3 separate regions of the Homo sapiens genome follow, and regions 1 and 2 are each reported to be linked to region 3. Evidence: microRNA targets listed by miRTarBase, many of them from high-throughput screens and not tested one by one. Region 3 holds a microRNA gene; each other region holds the end of a gene's coding sequence.

Region 1 (4,000 bases), not on the chromosome of region 3:
ATGATAAATTAACTAAAACAAGCCATGAAACAGCATCTGATAAGTGCTCTAACTCCGCCTTTTATTCCAGAAAAGTAACTGATGCCCTTACCAGAGTGAAGGTCCAGTGTAATAAGACAGAAAAAAGCCTTCTGCCCATGGTTTCTCTTCAGCTTTCTCTATATGGCAGCATTCCTTATAATAAACTTGCTCAATAGTTAAAATATAAGCAACATGAATCTAGAAGACAAGTTAAATAAGTATTTGGAGATTTTCTTTTAAAAAATAATTTAACATATCTCAGCACTCTTTAGCAGCTGGAGTACCAAAAAGAAGGCAATATTTCTCTCAATAAAAACAAAGAGAAGTTCGAGTAAAACCATACTTATGGTTTTTGTTCTAAAAGCAGCCAGTTTGGCTCAAGGCATAGCAGAAAGGGAATCCCTCTAAAGAGAGCTGCTATATTGGTGGCCACAAAAAAGGAAGACATCCAGTGGTAATAAATGCGGATCTCTTATTGCAAGAGAATAGTTTTAAAAATTCCTTTAAAAGGCAGTCAGTACTTTTAGTTAATGCTGTCTCTTACTGAGGTGTCCAACTCTACTTGTTTTTGTCCTGTAAATACAGCATTAGTTTTGACAGTGGCTAGCTAGCTACCCCCTCCAAATATATTTCAAAAGAATCAAGTATTTCCCACAAAATAATCACTGTATGTGCCTTTTCTGGGTGTACAATGTGCCACAGTAATACCCCAAAGAAGTAACTGGGAAGGTGAGAGGCAAGGAAGCACAGGTATTAATTTAGGGAATGAAACACTACCTGAGACAAAATTTGCCCAAAAGGGTAGGGGTTAAGTGACATGAACCCTCACCTCTTTACCCTTTCTCTCAAAAAGAAAATTTCTAGGTCTTTCAATAACTTCAATAAACCAAAATCCCTATGTATATATTTCATCCTAATCATGAAACTTGTATCTTTTGATATTTGGTTCAGGTTTAAGAAAGATAATATCACAGGAGGGAGGGGTAATCTGCTAATGTGATCTTTGGTAGAACGGGCTAAGAGCTATAAAATAATTTCAATCACAGGAGGCATTTCTTTTTCAATTCTCTGGCTTTAATATAAAACATCTAGCCAGGTGTGGTGGCAAGCGCCTGTAAACCCAGCTACTGGGGAGGCTGAGACAGGAGAATCGCTCAAACCTGCGAGGCAGAGGTTGCAGTGAGCCGAGATTGAGCCACTGCACTCCAGCCTGGGCAACAGAGCAAGACATCATCTCAAAACAACAACAACAACAACAAAAAATCTAATTAAATGCATGGTTAATTCAAGGCTCATCAATTATTCCCTCAGCTCCCTTAAAATCTAGTAACCATCTTCTGTAACAAAATTCTACAGTGTCAAGCACTAAATATATGTATGAATGTATCAGCAATAAGATGACAATCAAAGAATGCTGTGAAGATTGGCATCAAGATGTTAGCAGCATACTGCAGGACTAGGCTTAGAAGCCTACCTGCAGTTTATTTGTAAGGATTTTTCTTTTGGGGGCGGAGGGGAGAGAAAAGTAAATGTGCTAACTTAGGATACTTGCCCTTATAAAGAATTCCTTTGTATCCCATGTTCATCGTATTTAAGGACCTGATGTTTCTAATCACCACAAAATCTGCTACCCATATGAACATTTAGGAAAGTTTAGGTCTTCACAATACGGGTTCTGCCCACTTGAATTCTGACTTGAAAACAAACCAATTTATAATCAACTCCTGAAAGGGCCAAAATAAAAAATAATAGTTCTTCCTTCTAAGGGCATGTATTGGGGAACATGCCACAAGACCCTTTGGTAATTCATAAATCAGCCTCCTTATGCCAAATTTGGTTTCATAATAAACATTAAAGGAGAGTCCTGAATTTGACAATTATAAATAACTAAAATGTCAAACAATAATTGTTTGAATGGGGTAAAGTATTTCATTCTGTAAAATGCAAATTCTAACTGGACTCTCAGCAACCTGCATGGCAAACATAAGGAAATATGAGGAGGCTTCCAGCAGGGAAAGATAGAAGACTTTTTCCTTAGGAAAAAATAAATAAATAAAAAAATTAATAACCTGTATATAACTTGTCTTTTTTTTTTGGTATAATCAGTGCTTCATAAAGGCATCCTAATTTTTATATCTTTAAAGACAACCTACCATGAAATAAGAAGAATCCATAATTATAATTCTAAAAACCATGTAATCAACTTGTGTCCATGAACTCACGCATAGCAGCATCCTCTACTCAGGGACACATTATGTTGCTATGAATCCTTTTAAGAATTCTTTGAGTTTTTCTTCCTTTCTACTTCTACCTCATTATATCTACACCTTTCTTAACTACCTTGCAGTCAAAAGCCAAACTACCTGGGATGCTGCTCCTCTAGTTTGTCTTCAGCTAAGGATAGAGGCAAAGAATGAGGGAAGGGGAGGAAAAAGGGAGCAGGGATACGAGAAACAGAAAGGAAGAAAAAAGAATCCTTTTATTTTCCACCCTCTCTTCGCCCATTTTTTTTCTTTTCCCTTCACTGTACATCTAATTCTTTTGACCCACTTCAATTTTCATCATAGTAGGTAGAGCCACATCTTGAGAAACCTTAAAACTATAGATTTACTACAAAAAAGATGAGCTAATACAAAGTCTAAAGTAAACTAAAAGAGGGGTTGATTTACATCTGGCACAACTTAGTCTTTGTTCCAATCATTTTAGAAGTCTCAATTTAACTCCAGGCTAGACTCCAGTTTGTTCTGGGCCTCTCAGGAATTATGTTTTGTCATTTACATTGTATCAGACAGACTACCTCTCAAAAAATGTATATCTTAAATCTTACGGATGTGAAACAGGTAGGGAAGAAATAAGTATAGACTGTATTAGCTCACAGGATTCACACTATAAAGTACACTGACTCAAATTTTCTCTAATCATTCATACTCGCACATTCACTCAAGCATACATACTAGACATAAAAATTGTGCAAGATCAAGCATCAGCTTTCTATTTTAAAAGCCTTAATTTAAAAAAACTTAGATAGGCTCACTGCAGTTCCTTTAAAGGAATATTCAGTACTACAGTACTGCTTTAAGAAAAAATTCACAACTCAGTGTTAAGAACACAGTAGGTAACTGCTGCTTGACAATTACTTAACATTACTGAGAGCATCCAGTGCCAGCTTATGGATATCAACAATAAGGAAGAACCACTGGACAACATAAAGAAATAATCTGTAAATGATGTCACCAAACCTAACAAATTTGTTAGTATTTACCAAGACATGATATTATTCATCCTTGCTTCATGATCCATGAAATAATTAAGATTTTTTTAGGCTACATACTGAAGAGCAACACCTGCTCTCCCGCACAAAAAAGGGTTGCCCACATGGATGCTCTAAAACCCCTCAATGTATAGCTGAGAGGTCTTGTCCTACTCAGTGCCAAATGTATGCAACGCAGTCACTGCTTGGGCAATGGCTGCACATTAGTAGGATTAAATAAATGTATAAAGTACCTTCTTAAAATGGTAAGGGGGTAGTCCTGCATTCATATGTGGAATAACCCAAGAAATGGAAGAGGAGAAAAAGGAAACAGTCCTTAGGTTACTGATTAAAGCAAGGTTTGATACAGATATCCCCTCTTGTAGGCACTCAGCGGGTAGAATGTAGCCACAACAAACTTCCCATCAAACATCCTTCCAGTCAGTAATTTCTGCGCAGCTTTGGAATCACCAGCATTTGCATACTCAACAAAGACCTGAAAGAAGACAGAGAAAAAAACATTTCATTTCCACCAAGATTGTTTTAGACCAGTGCTTTACCACCTTTAATATATATACATCAACTGGAGATGTTATTAAAATGCAGATTTTGCTTCCTTAGGTCTGAGATGTCGCCTGAGTTTCTGTTCTAAACAAACTTCCAGGTGATGCCAATGCTGCTGGTCTATGAACTATACTTCAGGACAGCAAGGTTTAGAATACTTCCTCA
Region 2 (4,000 bases), not on the chromosome of region 3:
ACATGACACATCTTCTAGGAACATCACTTTTTAAATACTTGGGGGGAAATAAATATTTTTATATGAAGATTTTTTTTGAGACAGAGTCTCACTCTGTTGCCCAGGCTAGAATGCAGTGTTAGGATCATGGTTCGCTGCAGGCTTGACTTCCCAGGCTCCAGCGATTCTCCTGCCTCAGCCTCCCAAGTAGTTGGGATTACAGGCACCTGCCACCACACCCAGCTAATTTTTGTATTTTTTGTAGAGGTGGAGTTTTGCCGTGTTGCACAGGCTGATCTTGGACTCCTGGGTTCAAGCAGTACTCCCGCCCCGGCCTCCCAAAATACTTGGATTACAGGTGTGAGCCACTGCAGGCATGAAGATAGATTTATAAAGTATAAAACACAATTCATATGCAATTTTAAAGTAAAATTCTAAGATTTAAGCTAAGATCCCAATAAGATTCTGAAAGAAATTTGTGCATATAGTAAGTTATTTTATCCTGTAACTCCAGACAATAAAAGGATTTGTTTTCATTATCCTCTGCTGTTACACTTCTTCAGTAGATGAGCTTGAAAGACACAGGTCCAGGCAGTATGCAGCCATTACAAATTCCTTTTCGGAAGATTGACAGGGAGAGGGACGTAAAATTAGGAGGAAAGAAGAGACTACTTATATAATCTAGCACTGAAGTTAAAGACAGTCTTTGGGGAAGAAAGCTTATAAGATTAAGAGACGTTTCAAGAGAAGATTGTATTGAACTTGGTGGCTTATGATACAAAAGAGGTAGTTTACAAAGTTGAGTGAAAAGCCAGAGATGTCTTCCGGGTTCCAGGCTTCTGTGACTGGGAACATGCTGGTCATATTAATGGATATAAAGAAGTGAGGAAGATGGTGTGAAAGAGTATAAAGGAGGGAAAGGTGGGTAGAAAGGGATAGCAGTAGCAGTAAGGGGCTGGGGAATTTGTTATTTATTTTTTTTTGAGTCAGTCTTGTTCTGTCACCCAGTGCATTGGTGTGATCTCAGCTCACTGCAACCTCCGCCTCCTGGGTTCAAGCGATTCTCCTGTCTCAGCCTCTTGAGTAGCTGGGACTGTAGGCACATGCCACCACGCCTGGCTAATTTTTGTATTTTAGGTAGAGACGGGGTTTCACCATATTGGTCAGGCTGGTCAGACTCCTGACCTCAGGTGATCCACCTGCCTCAGCCTCCCAAAGTCCTGGGATTACAGGTGTGAGCCACCGTGCCTGGCCTTTTATTTTTGGTATGTTGAATTTGAGTGAAGTATAGGGTATTGAAGGGAGAAATGGCAAATAGGCAATGTAAGAAGGGGAACTGGAAAGAGACTTGGGATGAATATGTAGATTTTGGAACTTTATTCATGGTAAATAAAGGAGTCCGTGAGAGCAGATAGAATGTCTGAGGGTCAGTGTAGAAAAGATGATTGAAGGTTGTCCATTGGCCCACAGTACTAAATATGAGAAAGGAATAGGGTTATAAAGATGGATTCAGATAAGGGATAATCCATGGAGAGTATAGTATTGTGAAAGCAAAATGAAGGTCAAGTTTGAAAAAAAGATATTCTTATTATTAAGTAGTAGAGAGATAAAAGGGAAGGTAGTCTGAGAGATCAAAGGGGATTAGACTTAGATTAGACAACTGTGAGTAGTGATGGAATTTGAGCACTTTAAGCAAAGTAGTTAGGACAGGAGACAGTCGTGTGAACCATAAAGAGCTCCTTTCTCTTCTTCTACCAGAAGTATCTTTCTGGTAGAAAAAAGCTTTATATGGGGAAAACGTCTAATTTACTACTCCTGAAAGGAACAAAATGAAACATGTCCTATGAGAGTTTTTTTTTTTTTTAAGGAAACCAAATAGAGGAAGCAACTCATATATTAAATAATGAATTATTTTGCATTTGAAATTGTCCAATTTTGGGGGAAGAGAGGAGCCATTTTGGTATTCTGGCCCTAAAAAAATCAGCGTTAATTTCGACAGCTTAGTCTGTGGTCCTGAAAATTATAGATTATTTTTACCTTTATTATTTTGTACTTTTCTGGAACAAAATATTTACTTAGGATTCACATAGATCATACATATCTTTTATATATGTGACATATAAAAATATATATGACATGTATATTGGATAATTTGAAATACATAATGCTAAGTATTGACAAAGGTAGGTCACCATATAACTTGGGCACTATATCCTTTAACAAATGGGTTTAATTTAAAATTTCTTACTGGCAGTTTTAAAAAATCATATTTAAAAATAAATTCTGACAAGTGATACTGTGGTAAAAAATTTGTATCTAATCTTTAGGGATTTAGGGATTTAGGGATCTGTTGTGATGTCGATAAACATGCAAGAATAATTTAAATTTCTATAATTTAGGGACTGGGTCTTTGTTTATTGAATTTTAAACATATATACATGCTTGTCAGGCTGTTTAAACGTTCAGTAACTTGTTACGAGGTTTATTTCTACTTGAAAACCTACACGAATGTATTAGAATCACAGCATATTTAGGGGAAATATAAACTTTAACTCGATGCCACAAATATGTTCATTCTTACTGTAATCTGACAAGATTCCTTTACAATTATTTGTTTTCATAGTATTAAGTGTTAAAATATATAAAATGTATACAGTATATATTTTAACAAATAAGGTATAGTGATACCTCATGTTAAAGTCAATGTGACTTAGTAGTCATCTCCATTTGTTTAAAGACAGCGAACTTATTTTAATACAGTATTTAATTCTGCTTCATTAGGTTTCATAAATAAATCATATCAAACATTTACTCCAAATTATTTTGTAGCAAAATGAAGCATCAGTTTAAAAATTTGTATTACAGATTTTTACACATACTCTGTGCTGACGATTTTTAGTTTTGAAATTAATACTACAACATTTAAGAACTGTACAATTACCAGTCCTCTGTATTTAGTCAAGTTTAGAGTTTTAACAAGAGTACTAGTTTTTTAAACTGGGAAAGTTGTGATATTAGCTCATATGATGCCTTTTAAAATAAAAGTCTCTAAATTTTTTATTTAGAAAAGTTATTTAATAAGTTCACCTATTGATTATAATCTAGATTGTGACCATCTAAAATTGATTCCCACATCACAAAATTTAAAACAAATAGTATTATAAGAATTTTGATTGAGAAATGTAAACGGTATTCTTTAAGGTTATGTGATTGTATGTTTAATCTTAAATAGACAGTGACTTTAAGATAAAAAAAATCTATTTCTCAAGCTTTCTCTTAAGGATTTAATACCAGATTATTAGACCACATTAACTTGGAATGAGGTTAATGTTTAAATTATTGCCTTTTAAATTTGCCTCAGTTCATTCAAAGCTTTCTGAATCTGTTGGATGGATCAACATTTTGGTTGATTTTATAGAGTATAACCTTCCATTTTGAGACTTCCAAGATAATCCTCTTCTCCTCTCTGGCTTAGATTTTGCTCTTGGTTTGTTATATTTACCATTTAGGTTGTTTTCTCCACACTCATCATGCCACCACCAGCCTCCTAAAGGAGATAGATATGCAATTTAATGGGTACAGACTCGTATGTAGTTACTGTTACTGTATTTCCCCGTAAGTTTATCTTCCTTTCTTATAAATATTACAGTGTTTTAGATGCATGTATCCCAGTTTTAAATAATCTGTATAAGTCCCAATTTTAAATAATCTGTATAAATAATCTATACACTACCAAAAAATAGAAAATCTGAGGAAGATTAGAGGTAAAATACCTGATTGAACTAGAATGAACACTTTCATTATAGTTAAGAGGTTTTCGTCTAGAGAGAAAACGCTTATTTGGGATTCGGATTTTTAAAAGTTGTCATTGCAGATAATAGCTAATAATGTGGGAAGATACTTTGAAGATATGAAAATAAAGTATTGGTATCAGAAAAAGATACCTGAATAACCCTCTGGACAGTTGAAGTGTCCTTTTGCTTTGTGATCCCAAGTAGAAAACACCAAATCTTTGTTTTCC
Region 3 (4,153 bases):
ATGGAATATTCAGCACCTAGAACGGTGCATGCCACATACAGACACTCAAAATACCTGAATACATTCATGTATACACTATATACATAAACATTATGTATACTGCATGAAAACAGTATGCATTTATGTATATGATAATTAAAAAGTACACATTGTTCTGTGCCTTATGTGATGGGTGATGTTAAGAGGTTTTTTTTTTTTTTTTGAGACAGAGTCTCACTCTGTCCCCCAGGCTGGAGTGCAGTGGTGCGATCACAGCTCATTGCAACCTCCACCTCCCAGGTTCAAGCGATTCTCCTGCCTCAGACTCCCGAGTAGCTGGGATTACAGCTGCGCACCACCACGCCCAGCTAATTTTTGTATTTTTAGTAGAGACAGGGTTTCACCATGTTGGCCAGGCTGGTCTCGAACTCCTGACCTCGTGATCTGCCCATCTCGGCCTCCCATTACAGGCATGAGCCACCGCACCCGGCAAGAGTTTTTAATTTTTGCTCACAGCACTAACTTTATAGCCCAAACCCATGCACTTGAAGTGGCTCTACTCTAACCAGTGGTTTCCACCCTAGGTCCATTCTTCCCTCCATCCCCAGCTCATTATCCACATAGCATGATCTTTTAAAAACTTGGGAGGCCAAGGAGGGAGGATCACCTGAGGTCAGGAGTTCAAGACCAGCCTGGGCAACGTGGTGAAACTCCCGTCTCTACTAAAGATTAGCCGGGCACGGTGGCGGGCGCCTGTAATCCCAGCTACTTGGGAGGCTGAGGCAGGAGAATCGCTTGAACCTGTGAGGCAGAGGTTGCAGTGAGCCGAGATCATGCCAGTGCACTACAGCTTGGGCAACAGTGTAAGACTCCATCTTAAATAAAGAAATACATAAATAAATAAAAATAAATAAATAACAACGCAGCTAAATCACATCATTCCCTCCCCTGAGGCCACGATGCACGCAAAGTACTGAAGCCCTAAGGTACTTAAAACAAAAACAAGCAAGTCTTCACCTCTGTCTGATCCCATCCCAACCTACCTAGCCAACCTTACCATGTTCACTCTTCCCTTCCCTCCAGGCCAAGTAACCATGGCCACAGACCCCAGCTTTGACTCAGCTAAATGCTAAGCTCTCCCTTGCTCTGGCCTTTGCTCAAGTAGCCCCACCGCCAAGAAAGCTCTCATACCTGGTTCCTCTTAGCCTTCATCCCTCAGCTCTAAGCCAATCCCCTCGAAAGCCTCACCTTTCTGGACCACAGTGTGCCTGGCAGCCCACCCCACTCAGTCGAGATCATGGATTTCTTCTGAACCACTTCATTCTATCTGGATGTGTCTCGCAACCTGCACCTGCTTTGAGCATGGGTATATTGTGAAAGTCTTCTGCAGGCAGAGACCCTGTCTCTACCACTGACTGCAGGAGCCTAGAACGGTAATATTCACACAGGGCTCAACAAAATAGGAGGAAGGACTCTGTCTCCTTGCTGACAATTAAAGGTGTAGGAACAGGAAGACAAGATGGCAAATTCAGTGTGTGCAAAAGAGAGATGTAAATGGCCAAATATTATTCTGAAAGGATATATTCAACTATTTCATACACCAAAGACGATGAAAACAAGTATGGTATTTTAAGAGGTGTTTTGCCAACTACTACTAAGAAACAGTCAGTAAAGCAGATGAGGGGGCACCATCTGAAGGGGCAGTCATTAGTATTTATTCTCAGGGAAGAGTCATTTAGCTAGTTTTACCTTATTCCAATTCTTCCTAATTTGTTCACTAAAGTTAAGCTTAGCAAGTACCTTGTTTGCAGCACTCAACAAATTACAGTTGTAGCCAATTTTGCATCATATTAGGTTGAAGCAAAAATAATTGCGGTTTTTGCCATTAAAAGTAAAGCAAAATCCGCAAGTACTTTTGCACCAACCTAACAGCAATACTTGAGAAAAGCTTCTGATTCTTTATACCTAAACCTGGACACTTCCAACATTTGGGGCCAGATAATTCTTTGTTGAGGGGGCTCCACTGCAGAATGTTTAGGAGCATCCCTGCCCTAGCTGTGACAACCACAAATACCTCTCAACACCACCAAACACCAGCGTCTCCTCTTTACTCTCCCCCACCCCCGTCCCCCTTCTCCCCGCAAGCTTGACCCTGGTATCTGCCACTCGGCTGTCATCCTCTAGTCCTACACAATTCCGCCAGGTTGTTCTTTTCTACTGCCCTCTGCCCTCGGATTCTAGCATCCTAGTTTGGGCTGTAACACTTCATGCCCACATTGCAGGAACTGCCTCCTAAATGGGCTGTCTTGCACCCTCTCGCCTCCTCAATCCATCCAGCACACCTTCCACTGCAACCAGCTGAAGCTCACCCATCACTTTGACAGGGAACACCCCTGACACAGGTAGACTTCTTTTTCACTAAGTTTGGATTTGATTTGAAGACCTCATTCCTTAGAATCTTCTGAGTTTTGTACCCCCTGCTTCAGGGATTGGCAGATTGGGAGAGAGACTGGCAAAATTTGGGACCTCACCTGCAATGAAAGGTGAACAGTCTCTCTTCTAGGTTTCACACAAAAGAGTTCTTCAAGCAAGAGGTCTTCTAAAAATCTCATTTGTTGCTTTCAAAAAGACTGTAAAAATCACTGCACTCCAGTTTAAAATAAAATCTCCATTTGAAAATGCAACTGAAACTTTAAAATGAAATTAGAGAGAAGCCCAAAGGCAATATTTGCTTTAAAAAAAAAAAAAAGCACTCGGTCAGTCGGTCAGGCATGATGGCTCATGCCTGTAATCCCAGCACTGTGGGAGGCTGAGGCGGGCAGATCACCTGAGGTCAGAAGTTCAAGACTAGCCTGACCAACATGGTGAAACCCCGTCTCTACTAAAAATACAAAAATCAGCCGGGCATGGTGATGCACGCCTATGGTCCCAGCTACTCAGGAGGCTGAGGCAAGAGAATCGCTTGAACCTGGGACATGGAGGTTGCAGTGAGCTGAGATCGCACCATTGCACTCCAGCCTGGGCGACAAGAGCAAAATTCCTTCTTAAAAAAAAAAAAAAAAAAAAAAAGCCAGGCACGGTGGCTCACGCCTGTAATCCCAGCACTTTGGGAGGCCAAGGCATGCAGTGGATCATGAGGTCAGGAGATCGCGACCATTCTGGCTAACATGGTGAAACCCTGTCTCTACTAAAAATACAAAACAAAAACTAGCTGGATGTAGTGGCGGGCACCTGTAGTCCCAGCTACTGGGGAGGCTGAGGCAGAAGAATGGTGTGAACCCAGGGGGTGGAGCTTGCAGTGAGCCGAGATCACGCCACTGCACTCCAGCCTGGGTGACAGAGCAAGACTCCATCTCAAAAAAAAAAAAAAAAAAAAAAAAAAAATCAGCACTCAAAAAGGAAACATACATGGGATCAAGTCATAGAATAAACATTAGGTAGCTGGGCACACTGGTTCATGCCTGTAGTGGTAGCTACTCAGGAAGCCAAGGCAGAAGGATGGCTTGAGCCCTGGAGTTGGAGATCAGCCTAGGCAACACAGCAAGACCCCATCTCCAAAGTAAGACTAAACACCACGCACACAACCTCTCCTACCTCCCTAGCCTCCTTCTTTGCCACTGCCAGATATGTCATCACAAACCCTCCCTCGGTCTGACACAGGGCATGGGGAAGAGTAGAGACTACAGCAGGGTGGAACAGCCCACACAGTGGCCAAGACGGGAATTGGAGGCCAAGGGCTGTGTCTCCCGCTGGGCAGGCCACTTGCTCTACTGTCTTTAAGTGGTTAAGTGACTGGGCAGGGGCAAATGGGGGATTCTGATTAGAAACTGGACAATGTCATGAGAAGCAGACTGGAAAAAAAAAAAAGAAACTGGACAAGGTAGCCTAAGCGAGGTGAGTGGGTTCTGTATGCTCCCTATCAAGTAATGATAACCAATGTCTCCAGACTCCGCATATGCTGCAGACAGAGAGAGCACGCCCGCTTCAGCTCCAGTTTCAGTGATACGCGGGGTGGCCTGTAGCCCGGCAACCCACCAAAAACTAGAAAAGGTGAGTATGACTTGAAAGTCTGCAGGCATCAAAGAGATGCCAAGGCAGCCACAAATGAAGGGACCAACATTCCAAACCAAAGAGAGGCCCACTGAGGTGAGTCCACTATTCAGAGCCCCCACTC

Evidence for each region. Region 3 holds the annotated microRNA hsa-miR-548k (AAAAGUACUUGCGGAUUUUGCU, at 1,875-1,896, opposite strand). A microRNA usually pairs through its seed, bases 2 to 8, with sites in the 3' UTR of a target mRNA and lowers its output. Matches are read on the target gene's strand: a 7mer-m8 pairs with bases 2 to 8, a 7mer-A1 pairs with bases 2 to 7 and ends in A, and an 8mer does both.
Region 1: miRTarBase lists UHMK1 as a target of hsa-miR-548k. Seed matches in the 3' UTR shown: 8mer at 3,518-3,525, 8mer at 2,911-2,918, 7mer-A1 at 2,661-2,667 and 7mer-A1 at 1,942-1,948.
Region 2: miRTarBase lists ANGPTL3 as a target of hsa-miR-548k. The part of its 3' UTR that is shown has no 7-base or 8-base seed match.

Annotation. Positions count from the first base shown.
Region 1 is chr1:162,522,171-162,526,170 of GRCh38, reverse strand. It overlaps UHMK1 (U2AF homology motif kinase 1), which reads right to left. Exons shown (of 8, transcript NM_175866.5): 8 at 1-3,767. The coding sequence ends at 3,621. Among named protein-coding and RNA genes, the nearest start is that of UHMK1, 26 kb to the right of the region's middle.
Region 2 is chr1:62,604,159-62,608,158 of GRCh38, reverse strand. It overlaps ANGPTL3 (angiopoietin like 3), which reads right to left. Exons shown (of 7, transcript NM_014495.4): 6 at 3,924-4,000; 7 at 1,846-3,526. The coding sequence ends at 3,342. The region is part of intron 14 of DOCK7 (dedicator of cytokinesis 7); the gene reads left to right. Among named protein-coding and RNA genes, the nearest start is that of ANGPTL3, 8.6 kb to the right of the region's middle.
Region 3 is chr11:70,281,729-70,285,881 of GRCh38, reverse strand. It overlaps MIR548K (microRNA 548k), which reads right to left and starts at 1,927; the gene lies at 1,812-1,927. All of the region lies in intron 2 of PPFIA1 (PPFI scaffold protein A1), which reads right to left.